Regions from separate parts of the Homo sapiens genome. Here regions 2, 3 and 4 are each reported to be linked to region 1. The links are microRNA targets in miRTarBase. Many come from high-throughput screens and were not tested one by one. Region 1 holds a microRNA gene; each other region holds the end of a gene's coding sequence. Distances are between the middles of the regions.
The links. Region 1 holds the annotated microRNA hsa-miR-4448 (GGCUCCUUGGUCUAGGGGUA, at 938-957, opposite strand). A microRNA usually pairs through its seed, bases 2 to 8, with sites in the 3' UTR of a target mRNA and lowers its output. Matches are read on the target gene's strand: a 7mer-m8 pairs with bases 2 to 8, a 7mer-A1 pairs with bases 2 to 7 and ends in A, and an 8mer does both.

Region 2: the mRNA of SEMA3G is a reported target of hsa-miR-4448. Seed matches in the 3' UTR shown: 7mer-A1 at 817-823.
Region 3: the mRNA of PRRC2C is a reported target of hsa-miR-4448. Seed matches in the 3' UTR shown: 7mer-A1 at 486-492.
Region 4: miRTarBase lists STXBP4 as a target of hsa-miR-4448. The part of its 3' UTR that is shown has no 7-base or 8-base seed match.

Annotation. Positions count from the first base shown.
Region 1 is chr3:183,884,711-183,887,816 of GRCh38, reverse strand. MIR4448 (microRNA 4448) reads right to left here and starts at 1,017; the gene lies at 932-1,017. PARL (presenilin associated rhomboid like) reads left to right here and starts at 2,937. Exons shown (of 10, transcript NM_018622.7): 1 at 2,937-3,095. The coding sequence starts at 2,971. It also overlaps the pseudogene RPSAP31. RefSeq lists enhancers at 2,488-2,717, 2,758-2,807 and silencers at 2,757-2,907, 3,018-3,106.
Region 2 is chr3:52,432,802-52,435,921 of GRCh38, forward strand. SEMA3G (semaphorin 3G) reads right to left here. Exons shown (of 16, transcript NM_020163.3): 16 at 234-3,120. The coding sequence ends at 2,802. Among named protein-coding and RNA genes, the nearest start is that of SEMA3G, 11 kb to the right of the region's middle.
Region 3 is chr1:171,591,500-171,594,619 of GRCh38, forward strand. PRRC2C (proline rich coiled-coil 2C) reads left to right here. Exons shown (of 35, transcript NM_001387844.1): 35 at 88-2,012. The coding sequence ends at 348. Among named protein-coding and RNA genes, the nearest start is that of MYOCOS, 29 kb to the right of the region's middle.
Region 4 is chr17:55,159,362-55,162,481 of GRCh38, forward strand. It overlaps STXBP4 (syntaxin binding protein 4), which reads left to right. Exons shown (of 18, transcript NM_178509.6): 18 at 436-3,120. The coding sequence ends at 550. Among named protein-coding and RNA genes, the nearest start is that of HLF, 100 kb to the right of the region's middle.

The DNA.
Region 1 (3,106 bases):
CCTCTGGCCAGTATTGCTAGAGGACATGACACTGACATCAACAGGGTTTTTAAAGGCAGCGATGGCACGAGCTGCCAGCAGAAACTTCTTGCTTCTCCCAGGTCCTCTTCAGATGTAGGATGTAGACGCCATCACTTTTCTTCTTACAGATGTGCTACTCCATTTGGAAGTCAAGGTTGGTACCACCTAAGTGGGTTCCTGCTGCAAGGAACTTAAGGACATCCTCCTCCTTCATTTGCAGGACATCAAGGGCTCTAGACATTGTGAAAGTTTCCCTTTAAGTTACAATGAGAATTGTAGGGACCAGCCCCACAGGGTCGGTGGGTCTCTCCCCACATGCAGAGACGAGAGAGCGTAGAAATAAAGACACAAGACAAAGAGATAAAAGAAAAGACAGCTGTGCCCGGGGGACCACTACCACCAAGACACGGAGACCGGTAGTGGCCCCAAATGCCAGGCTGCACTGATATTTATTGGATACAAGACAAAGGGGCAGGATAAGGAGAGTGAGCCATCTCCAATGATAGGTAAGGCCACGTGGGTCACGTGTCCACTGGACGGGGGCCCTTCCCTGCCTGGCAGCCGAGGCAGAGAGAGAGAGGAGACAAAGAGAGAAACAACTTACACCATTATGAGAGACTTTTAGTACTTTCACTAATTTGCTACTGCTATCTAGAAGGCAGAGCCAGGTGTACAGGATGGAACACGAAGGCAGACTAGGAGCGTGACCACTGAAGCACAGCATCACAGGGAGACGGTTAGGCCTCCGGATAACTGCGGGAAAGCCTGACTAATGTCAGGCCCTCCACAAGAGGTGGAGGAGTAGAGTCTTCTCTAAACTCCCCCAGGGACTACTAAGTAGCAGGTGTTTTTCCTTGACATGCTACCGCTAGACCACAGTCTGCTTGGCAACGGGCATCTTCCCAGACGCTGGCATTACCCCTAGACCAAGGAGCCCTCTGGTGGCCCTGTCTGGGCATAATAGAAGGCTCGCACTCTTGTCTTTTGGTCACTCCTCACTATGTCCCCTCAGCTCCTGCCTCTGTATGGCCCGGTTTTTCCTAGGTTATGATTATAGAGCGAGGATTATTATAATATTGGAATAAAGAATAATTGCTACAAACTGATGATTAATGATATTCATATATAATCACGTCTATGATCTAGATCTAGTATAACTCTTGTTGTTTTATATATTTTATTATACTGGAACAGCTCGTGCCCTTGGTCTCTTGCCTCGGCACCTGGATGGCTTGCCGCCCACAGAGAATCTAGAACAATGCCGTATGGGCCCCTCTCTGGGTTGTGTGGAAAAGGCGTGAATTTATTTTAGTTTTTCAAACAAGTCGTGCGCTGGGAGACATCACAAATGCTATTCTTTCTGAGGAACACTTCAATCCTCTTCTCTTGGTGACCTCTATCAGTTTCTCTGGGAAGCCTTCTCCCTGAGCCTCCCATGCCCCTTCCTTCAATTGGGCTATATCCCCCCTCTCTAGACTCCTACAGAGCCTTCTCCCCCAATACAATAGAATCTTTGTGAGGTCAGATATAGTGTCTTCTCAATTGTATCCCCAGGTTTAACATATCACCTGACACACTGTAGGTGCTTAATAAGAGCTTATGGAATGAATGAAGTGCTATTGCAGAGATAAGCATAAAGCGGTATGTGAGTACAAAGGAAGGGAATCTAAATTGGAGTGGAGGTCTGGGAAAGGCCTCCTGGAAGAGGTGACACTTGAGGCTGACCTGAAGGACAAGTCGGTTAGATGTTTCAAGTGGTGAGAACGGTAGCATGAATGCTCAGCAGTGGGAACGCGGATGGTGCCTTTGAGTAATGGCCAATGACTGTATGGCTGCAGCTAGGGTCGGGGGGAATGGAATGGCAGGGAATCAAGCTAACTGACAGGTAGTTGAGGGATGGATTATGAAAAAGTGAAAGCCCGCTTTTCATTTCAGGCTTGGATTTTGTGTTTATTTACTTATTTATTTATGAGAAAGGGTCTCACTCTGTTGCCCAGGCTGGCACGATATCGGCTCACTGCAACCTCCCGAGTTCAAGTGATTCTCCCACCTCAGCCTCTCGAGTAGCTGGGATTACAGGTTTGCGCCACCACGCCCAGCTAATTTTTGTATTTGTATTTGTAATTTTTTTGAGACGGATCTCGCTCTGTCACCTAGGCTGGAGTGCAGTGGTCCAATCTCGGCTCACTGCAACCTCCGCCTCCCAGGTTCAAGCAATACTCCTGCCTCAGCCAACTGAGTAGCTGGGATTACAGGCCCCTGCCACCATGCCCGGCTAATTTTTGTATTTTTAGTAGAGACGGGGTTTCACCATGTTGGCCGGGCTGGTATCGAACTCCTGACCTCAGGTGATCCGCCGGCCTCGGCCTCCCAAAGTGCTGGGATTAAAGGGGTGAGCCACCCCGCCCGATAGGCTTGGACTTTGTTAAAGGCATACAGAATAACACGAAGTGGTGAGATGCAGAAAAAAGTAGTAATTTAAGAAAACTTGGCTTGCCACGTTGGTTCCTCTAGGGACCAGCCCTGCAACTCCGGGCAAGTCCTATCCCCTCTGACCAGAGGCAAAGTGAAACAGTGATGACATCTACCTCTAGCAGTGCTGTGACGATTAAATGCGATCTTAGGCAAAGCGCCTGGTATGTGCCGTTACTCGAAAAAATGACAGTTGTCCCTCTTCGCTCTGGCCCCATCCTCCTCATCTGCAAATGCCGGGAGGCCGGGCCACTCTCGCAGGTCGCTCCCGGAGCCAGCTGAGCAGTGGGAGGGGAAGCGGTGGGACAGAAGGGCGCCAGCCAGTCGTCCGGGCACCGTGGCTGGTTCGGCTGCCGCTCAGCCGCGCGGGGGCGCTCTAGACTGCTCCTCGTGCTCTATGGTGTTGCCTTCGCCCCGGAAGTAGTTGCGCAGCTGGGGTTGGTAAGGTCGGGCCATGGTGGGGCAGAGGTTGGGAAGATGGCGTGGCGAGGCTGGGCGCAGAGAGGCTGGGGCTGCGGCCAGGCGTGGGGTGCGTCGGTGGGCGGCCGCAGCTGCGAGGAGCTCACTGCGGTCCTAACCCCGCCGCAGCTCCTCGGACGCAGGTAATAGCCGC
Region 2 (3,120 bases), 130 Mb from region 1:
CCTTTCCAGAAGCCACAGTCCCCACAGCACAGCCCCAGTCCCCCAGCCATGAGGACTTAATATCCATTGGTATGTGGCTTGGGATGAAGGCAGGAACCATGCCAAGTGTCACTGTGACAAATGTCAAGTGTTGTTGTGAAAAAGGAGCAGAGCTGCCTACGGGCCCAGCTGCCCTTTGCCAGTGTTTTTTTTTTTTCTTTTAGTTCAAGATCCTCCTGAAGTCCCAAGAAGGTCAGTCTTACAAGCCCACAGGCCAGGATGTTCCTCATTTAATGAGCAATCTCGGCTTTGTACAAAGCCCTCTAACTCCTTCCTTCCCCTGATACCCATCTTCCTCCTTTCTAGAAAGCACCACCCAGTCTCTTTCTTTAAGTCCTTTTCCAGCTCTAAAACCTGTTTGGGAAATCATGAAACAGAAGTCACTCAGGGTGACCTTCTTTCTCATGGAATGGATGGGAGGGCTCTTCATTTTCAGCTCATGTGCGCAGCATCAGTCCATTTAGTACAATACACAGATACACAGTAATGATATAATTATGTGATGCAAATATTAACTTCATCCCTTTCCTTGTAAATTCAGCTTTTCTCACCAGAGCTCAGGGGCAGTCATGACAATAAAAATAACAATAGTAATTACAAGAAATGTGCTCTGAGTACAGAGAAACCACAAGGCCCATCTCAACACACAAATACAAAAACAACTCGCATTTACGGGGCGTTTCCAGGAGTTAATAGCATACAGTACCATGGGTAGGGTGTGGTTGGCAGAAGCTGTCCACTTTTTCTAAGTGCAGGTGTTCGTTGCTGAGGATCTTGTGCTCCTCCTCCCTTCGTTTTCTAGAGTAACTTCCCAGAGGACCCTGCCTGGAGCCTGCCAAGCCAGAGTCCAGCGTAAAGGCCCGGAGGGCTGTTTGTGTCTTTCTGGCCTCCCTAGGGTAGAGGGCAGAGCTGGCTGCAGCTCTGATACCCTTTCCTGGAGCTCTGCACTCTCTCCTCCCCTCTTTAATCCCCTCTGTCTCCCCTCCCTTCTGCTCTTCAGCCCCCATCCTTTCCTCCTCTCCTCCTCTGCCTTGACCAGCTGACCTCCCAGCAGACAGCACCGCAGGCTGGAAGGCTTCTCAGGGCGTTGATAGGTTAATCTCAGTGCTTCTGGTTCATTTATTACATGGTCAAAGGGGAGAACGGAGGGACTATTTCAGGTCCCAGTTCTCTGGAGGTGCCAGGGGTAAGGGAAAGATAAAACCCAAGGCAGTCTGGGTTTGAGTTTCAATAGGGCAGGGAACCCTGGCTTGCTTTTTATCTTTTTTTCCCCTCCTTTCTTTGTCTTGGTTGTTTTAATGGAGGGAATCTCAAACCCAGTGCTCTTATCTCCTTCCAGCCAGTTTTGTGTGTCATGAATGTGTTCATGTGCAGGCTGGGAACAACTTTTCATTTAGTCCTCCTCCTCCCCTCTGTGCTCCCCAGCCTGAGAAACTGGTGATGGCAAAAACACCTCCCCTACATGCCCAGGCAGAACGCGTCCTTGCCATCCGAGCCTTACCCCCGAGAATCAGCGGGACTTACACTTCTTCGTCCTTTTCTCTACCTTGTTTCCCCCTTAAAAGAAAAACAGTCTTCCTAAATCCATTTAGCATAAAACAGAGATTCCAGAGATGGAAACACTGGGTCTTCCAGGTGGCTTCTGAGCTAACTGATGCCATCCTGAGTTCTTGTGGACACCTGTTCCTGCCTGGGTCCCACAATCTATCCTAAGGGTCTCCTGCCCTCTATCCATCTCCATATCCTCTCAATCTTCTGCATCCCTGGCCCTGATTCTGAGGGCTGCAGGGCTCACAGAGCCTCCACATTCCCAGCCTCCAGGGCTGCGGCATGCTTGCATCACCCTGGGAAAGACAGCCCACTCTTCCCGCCTGCACCCTTCCCCAGCTCCCCCACCCTATCTCTAGTCCACAGACACAAGGGACAACAATGCCCCAGAACCCACCCCTCCCCGCTCGTGGACATGGAGAGCCTGACAATGGGGAGGGGGTCCTCTCAGGAGGGGCAGGCATCCCAGCAACCCTGGCCTGGGGAAGGGAAGTCAGGCTGTGAGATGCCCCCACCTGGTTTACAAAGTGAAGCCTGAGCCCTGACCACCCCAGATCCCTGGGGGCTCTAGCAGTCTATGCCTCTAGATTATCTACACCTCTCCGTGATTCTCAGATGGAGAAGAGGCGGTGGGCAGTGGCAGGGAGCCACCAAGATATCACGGCGCGACAGGAGGGGAGGTGCATTGTTGCTCCACCTTCCCAACACCTCTGTGTTCCCTCCCCAAGTCGGTCAGGTAGGCTCTTCTTACGGGGTGCTAGCTTAGAGGCCATTTCCACCCTCTGGCTCCCTGCAGGCCCCCTACCGGGATACCCCCTAGACGCACCCACACACCCACTCTGAGGGTCACTCAGAATGGCCATTGTTCTGTAGGCTGGGAAAGAACCACCCAACCCTCTTGCCTCTGGGCACACCCGGAAATGTGTTGCGGAAGCCAGGCCATCTCTGAGAACAAATGGCAGATCCCTTGGGGCTGCCAGCAGCCAGAGGGTGCTGGCTCCAGCTGGGTCTAAGAGCACAGAGAAGGGCAGGGAACAGGCTTCAAGAACCCAGCCCCTCCATTAGACCCCAGTAGCGGTGTGGGGGCAGAGACACCTGTCTCTAAGAGGCAAACAGACATCCTGACCCCTCTGCCCTAGCTGGGTGGGTGGGAGATGCTGGGGGCTGCTAGTGGGCCCCCCAGCCCATCCTGACCACCCCTCCTCTGCCCCCTTCTACGTGGCCTCCACCTCCCGGGGCGTCCGATTGTGCTCGGCATGCACCCGGCTCTTCATCTTCTTGCCTAGCTCCAGCCCTGCCCAGCTCTTGCCCCTGGCCTGCTTGCCCCGGCTCCGGCTCCGGAAGCAGCCTGAGCATTCCGTGGTGCCCCTGCACCACACGCGCTCACAGTACTCATCCACCCGGGGCAGGTTGGCGAAGCCAATGAGCTGCAGGATGTCCTTGTACCAGGCCTTGGGTGGGGTGGAAGCCAGGCCTCCCCGGGCTGGGGGCTCCTCTGGCTTTGGCTCCGGAGGGAACAGGTTGTCCAGCTGT
Region 3 (3,120 bases), not on the chromosome of region 1:
GATTGGTAAAAGAATTTGAACCAAGATTGATTTGACAGGCTTTGGTAATGCTGCAGTATTTTCAGTTGTTCTTTCTCATTTTTTAAGGCAAAGCAGAGAGCAGAGGTTCTTCAGTCCACGCAACGGTTCTTCTCTGAACAGCAACAGAGCAAACAGATAGGAGGAGGCAAAGCCCAGAAAGTGGACAGTGATTCAAGTAAACCTCCTGAAACACTGACCGACCCTCCTGGGGTCTGTCAGGAAAAAGTAGAAGAAAAGCCACCCCCTGCACCCTCCATAGCCACCAAACCTGTTAGAACTGGACCAATCAAACCTCAGGCGATCAAAACCGAAGAAACAAAATCTTAAAGGCTATGGTTTATTGCAGGGGATTGGGAGGGGGGCGGGAAAACATGGAGAATTAAGTCAGATAATGCTGGCAGCCAAAGGGGCAAAATGGCCTGTGACATTATCCTGTTCAGAGCTTGGAGATGTACAAGGGACATAGGAGCAATTTACACTGACACACAGCTGCTGTACCAGTGAAAACGAGGCTTTGCAAGCTTGTACCTACTATATAACATGTGCTTGGTTGATGGCCATGCATCTTCAGTCAGAATTTATATATAAATGTATGCACCCATTTTTTTGAGTGCATATAATTTAGACCTAAAAATCCTTATGATTAGATGAAACACCAAAAATATAAGGAAAATAACACAGCAGAGGAATAGCTCAGCCTGAACAGTGTGATGGTCCCAGCTACTACATCAGATGCGGTTTTTTTGCTCCCTTATGTTCTTCGGATATGGTTATGGCATTTGTAGGCTTGGAGGTAAAGAACTGAAGATAACTGGTGCTGGATAGAGGAGCCTTATTTTTTATTATGGCAGCTTGCTATTTTTATAACATGGTGATTGAGTTGAACACAATCAAAGTACAGTAGTAACTGATGTCCCCTTCTTCCTGGATGAATGAGCAGATAAATATTGATGTCAGCATCCTTGAACCATATCAAAGTGAGCAGTGTTTGGCTACTGCTTCTATTTGAAATGGTGCTGTGTTTTGGTTGTGGTCTGAAGCTTTGAAGCGCTACTTAGCATCTCCTTTCTTCCATGGAGCTCTCACGATTCAAACATGACAGATTTGGTAAAATGCTGGTTAGGTTGAGTCTTCCTTGCCCCCACTCAGTCATCTTTGTATGAATCCCATGATTTGGGGGTTTTTTTCTTTTTTTTTTTATACCAGTTTTTAGCTGGTGTTTATGAAGAACAGTGAGTACCTAGAACTGTGCCACTAATTAAAGGAAATCCTAAGAAGGTGCATTTCTTTACAGAGCTGTGTCATGCCATCCTTTGGGCCCTCTGCTGGAAAAGTAGAATCAAGTCTCAAATAATGCCTTTTTAATTGTATCCTCTAGTATTATAGATATAGGACAGTACTGTATCATACCTCTGTGAATGTAAAATATCTTGTACCTGCTTTATGATACGTAGTAGTGACCGTGCTTTATCAGAGCTGTTTTTAATGATGTTATTCTAGAATGTTTTCTTTCCAGATGATGATTCAGAAGCTAATTTTAAAAAACGGTGCCAGGTACCACAACAGTAACAGAACTTTGCAATTTTCTGGGGTTTTGTTTTTTACCTTTTTCCCCCCTTTTTTTTAAATGGAGTGTGCTGGATGTCTCTATAATTTTATTCAGATGACTGCAGAACCTGGAAAAGCTGTTGCTGCTATTGATGCATAACATACTGCTATTGGTCTTTTTATATAAATATATATATATATATACATATATATATATAATTTGAATTTTTGGAAACTTTAGCTGTGCTGTCAACTTTGGAAAAAGTATCCCGGTTTACTGTGTTGAGTTGGCATTGTACAGAAATTAACAGCCATATTGGTCTAGAAACGTTAAACTTAATTTTTTTCCATTTGTACAGGGGTAACGCACTGTATTAAATATGTAAGGTCTTATCTACATGGGTTTGATTACAGAAACTAATAAAGTATTCTCTAAATAATGATTCTTGGAGCTTATAATCATTTCCTAAAATCTGAAGCAAGAGGGTTTGTCATGTATTAAAAATAGTGGTCAAGAGTACTGGCCAGTCGCAGTGGCTCATGCCTGTAATCCTAGCACTTTGGGAGGCCGAGGCGGGTGAATTGCCTGAGCTCAGGAGTACGAGACCAGCCTGGGCAACATGGTGAAACCCCATCTCTACTAAAAATACAAAAAAAAAGTACATTATACAGCCGGGAGCAATGGCTCATGCCTGTAATCCTAACACTTTGGGAGGCCAAGGGAGGTGGATCACCTGAGGTCAGGAGTTTGAGACCAGCCTGGCCAGCATGGCAAAACCCTGTCTCTACTAAAAATACAAAAATTAGCTGGCCTGGTGGCAGGTGCCTATAATCCCAGCTACTTGGGAAGCTGAGGCAGGAGAATTGCTTGAACCTGGGGCGGGAGTCAGAGGTTGCAATGAGCCAACATCAAGCCACTTCACTCCAGCCTGGGCAAAAGAGTGAAACTCCGTCTTAAAAAAAAAAAAAAAAAATTACATTATACTCTAGAAAAGGATTATCATCCAAAGCCTTGACTTCTCACTTTGAAGAACTCTGGAGATCATTCAACTAAAGTAACTATTGTCATGGCAGATAGTCATGGCCCCTGTTCTGAAGTAGCCAAACTCATATTGAAAACAAATCTGTCAGCCGGGCGTGGTGGCTCATGCCTATAATCCCAGCACTTTGGGAGGCTGAGGTGGGCGGATCACCTGAGGTCAGGAGTTCGAGACCAGCCTGGCCAACATGGTGAAGCCCTGTCTCTACTAAAAATACGAAAATAAGCTGTGCGTGGTGGTGCATGCCTGTAGTCCCAGCTACTTGTGAGGCCGAAGCAGGAGATGTCAAGGAGTAAAATTCTCTTGATGCACAGTGCCAGATGTAGAAGAGTTTCACCATCTTTTGGTCAGAAGCTGAAGGACCAAAAATAGATCTCAGTATTATTTATGTTTGTATTTTTCATAGCTTTGTTAGCATGTTCATGAACATCACCTGCCCTAAAAGGCTATAGGGCATTTATTCTATCATTTACTCAATTTATGAAATGAAATACTGAGGGATTGTAATTAC
Region 4 (3,120 bases), not on the chromosome of region 1:
TTGTCATTTAGAAAGTTCTTTGGCTGCAGTAGAGAATGAATTAGAAAAGAACTAGAGCAGAGGCAGGGAGGCAAACCATTTCAGTGACCCAGACTATTTCATTGAAAAAGGAGAGCAAGAAACAGATTCCAGAGATGTTACAGCAAGGCAGTCATTGGACTTGCTGACTTACTGAATGTCAGATACTGAAACGAAAGGAGTTAGAGATGCTGCATTCACCTGCATTCCTTTTTAACCAAAGAAGAAAGAAAGAAATGGTTTTCATTGAAGCTTAAAATGTGTCTAAGACTTATTAAAGCTATTGGATCTAGTTCTAACTGCTTCCTATCACAGGGACTTTACTAGGGTAGAAGCAATGTCACCAGGATCAGTACTTGCATGGATGAGTAGAAGGACAGTCTTTCAGATTCTAATTGCATTCTTGTTCTTCTCAAGTCATGTAACACAGACTACATCCTGGATCCATCCCGTGATGAGTGTCCTGAATCTATCTCGCTCAGAGGAGAATGAAGAGGATTGCTCTAGAGAACTCCCCAACCAGAAAAGTTGATGGTTTTCCTTAGGAAGTGGAGCTACATGGATGATGTGAGCAGAGACGCATAACATCCAATTCTGAGATGAAACAGTCTAAAATAGGAGTAAAGCATGCACTACTTGTTGAAGTGTGAAATGGAGACTCTGGACTTTGGGTATTTTTGTAAAACTTTTGATATTTCTGTATACATTTAAAAAATCAATTGCCACTACAGTAGTTCCTTAAGAATAATCTAGTTATATTTTTTGAAATCACATATAATTAGACTTTATAATATATATACTTTTTCATATATAATTAGATCTTTCTTTGTAATTTCATATGTAGTTCTTCATAGGGTCTCAGATACAATGGTTTTTATAATTGACATATTGAAAAAGTATATGAACATAATGAAACACCTCATTTATTTGATAATTCACTAATGTTTTATATTCATATATTAGGAAAGTGAACTTAGCAAGCTTTTTGGAATTTAAGGATCACATTTAGACATCTCATGGGCTGATGAATACAGCTGGTATCTTTGTGGAGCTTTCTAATTTACAAAATGCTTTGTAGACCCCATTGTCTTTAAACCATACAACATGCCCGTGAAGCTGATCTGGTGGGTATGTTTATTCTTGGTTTTCAGTAGGGAAATAGCAGTTCAGAGAGAGGAAGCTCTCTGTCCCAGCACCGAGACTCACTCCTAAGTCTTCTGATTCCATGAGCAGTCCCCCTTCCCCCATACCCTGCTGTCTCCACGGAGGGAGGTCACAGCCCATCACGCAGGACACTGTGATTGTGTTGATGCAGCTGGCTCCACAGCTGTGCATTCCACAGAGATTCAGAAGGCACCTCTTCGGTCAAACATGGCCCCTCTATAACCCCACTATTCTTCTCCTATAAACCCTTCCCCCTTCTCTGCACCCAAGCCTTCGCCAAGTAGGCGCACTCTTTGTGATATTGTTTCAGCAGACTTCTTTCAGCAGCTCGTGTTTTTCTAAAGTGAAAGGCATGGTTTGTCCTGCTTAGGTTGCCCTTCCCAGAGGGATGGTTTGAGGGGAGCTGATGAGAAGAGAGGTATCTGTTAAAACATTACTGCTCTACTCGAAACAAGATGGAAGCCTAAAGCCCAAGTCGAGCAGCTCCCAGCACTGCTGTGCAGACCTAGAGGTCCTTAGAACATAGTCTAAGAACCATTCATTGTAGCCATTTTATAGTTGAGTAAACTGAGATCTTAAGTCTCCTAGTCTACTGAATTTCATATGGTGTATAATACAGATTTATATGGTAAAGATATACATATACATTGTGCTCAACTATACATTCCTGAATCCATTTAGGATTTGTGATTTATGTCTTGAGTAATAATATAAAGTCAACTCCAGACTGATAGGTAGTCATTAGCCATGAGAAATGTTTCAGGATGGCTAGGGAAGACTTGTGTTTTGCCTGACAGCCATTTGAATGTTAGGAAGCTTCGGGGAGACAAGTTTTGAGAGAAGCCCCAGAGGGAGCTATTTCCTTGCACCCCCCAGAGGTGAATGAGGTATTCTATAAGTTAGTGTCTATAATTGTGAAAGTACAAACTTCTTGTTTTTGTCAAATTAATGGTATGAAATTTCTCTCCCCCTGCTTGAAGAGTTTTCTAATTCGTTTCTAGTGAGCAAAACAAAGAAGGTGCTTGAGTCACTGAAATCAAAGTACTCAGGCACACAGCCCACTGACAAGAGACACCTCATCCATTAACTGCTGTTTTGTACCACTTGCCGCCCTGTTTCTGTCAAATACCTAGTGAAAAAGGCCTAAACAATTGTAATGATATTATTTATTGGGCATTTTGTGCCATACATGGTGATGAGCAGTTTGCATATATTTATTTATGATCTTCTTAAAACCATTCCATGAAATAGGAACTGTAATTATCCCCAATTCTAAAAGAAAAAACTTAGTTTTAGAGAGTTAGTAATCTTTGCCTAAGGGTCACAAAGCACCTATGTGTAGAAGCTAGGGTTCAAGGCAGATCTGTGATTCCAGAAGCTGTTCTCTAAACCACTATGGAGAACTGCTTAGATTCATTGTCTATGGGTACATTTTATAAAAAGGCAGATTCTAGTTCAGTGTCATAAGGAACTTTCTAGTAATTAGAGCTGATAAGAAAAGAATTCCCCAGGAGAAAATGGAAACACTATCCCAGCAATCTGAATTCCTTACTTGGGGAATGTTGCTGAGGAGGTTCAGTGTGTGAATGGACTGAACCAGTTGGCCACTCTCTCAGATTCCCTCTTCATAAAGCTTCCGTGACTTCTAAACCATCAGGTCGGTGCCATAAGAGATGCTCAAAAAAGCATGGTCAGGGCTTAGCAAGAATCCTTTTCCAGTGCAAATACGACCCTCATATTATGTTTTGGCGAGTAGCCAGTCTTTCTTTAACATCAATCAACCGTAGCAATGTGGTCATCACGAAGTCTTCATTGACTCACTGGCTTGGATTTTAGGGTTAGAAAATCTGAATGTTCTTATGTCCTTCCGTCTCACTTTACTAGAGTGCCCAAGTTGACTCATCCTTACTCACTCATTCCCTCAAAATATTTATTGAG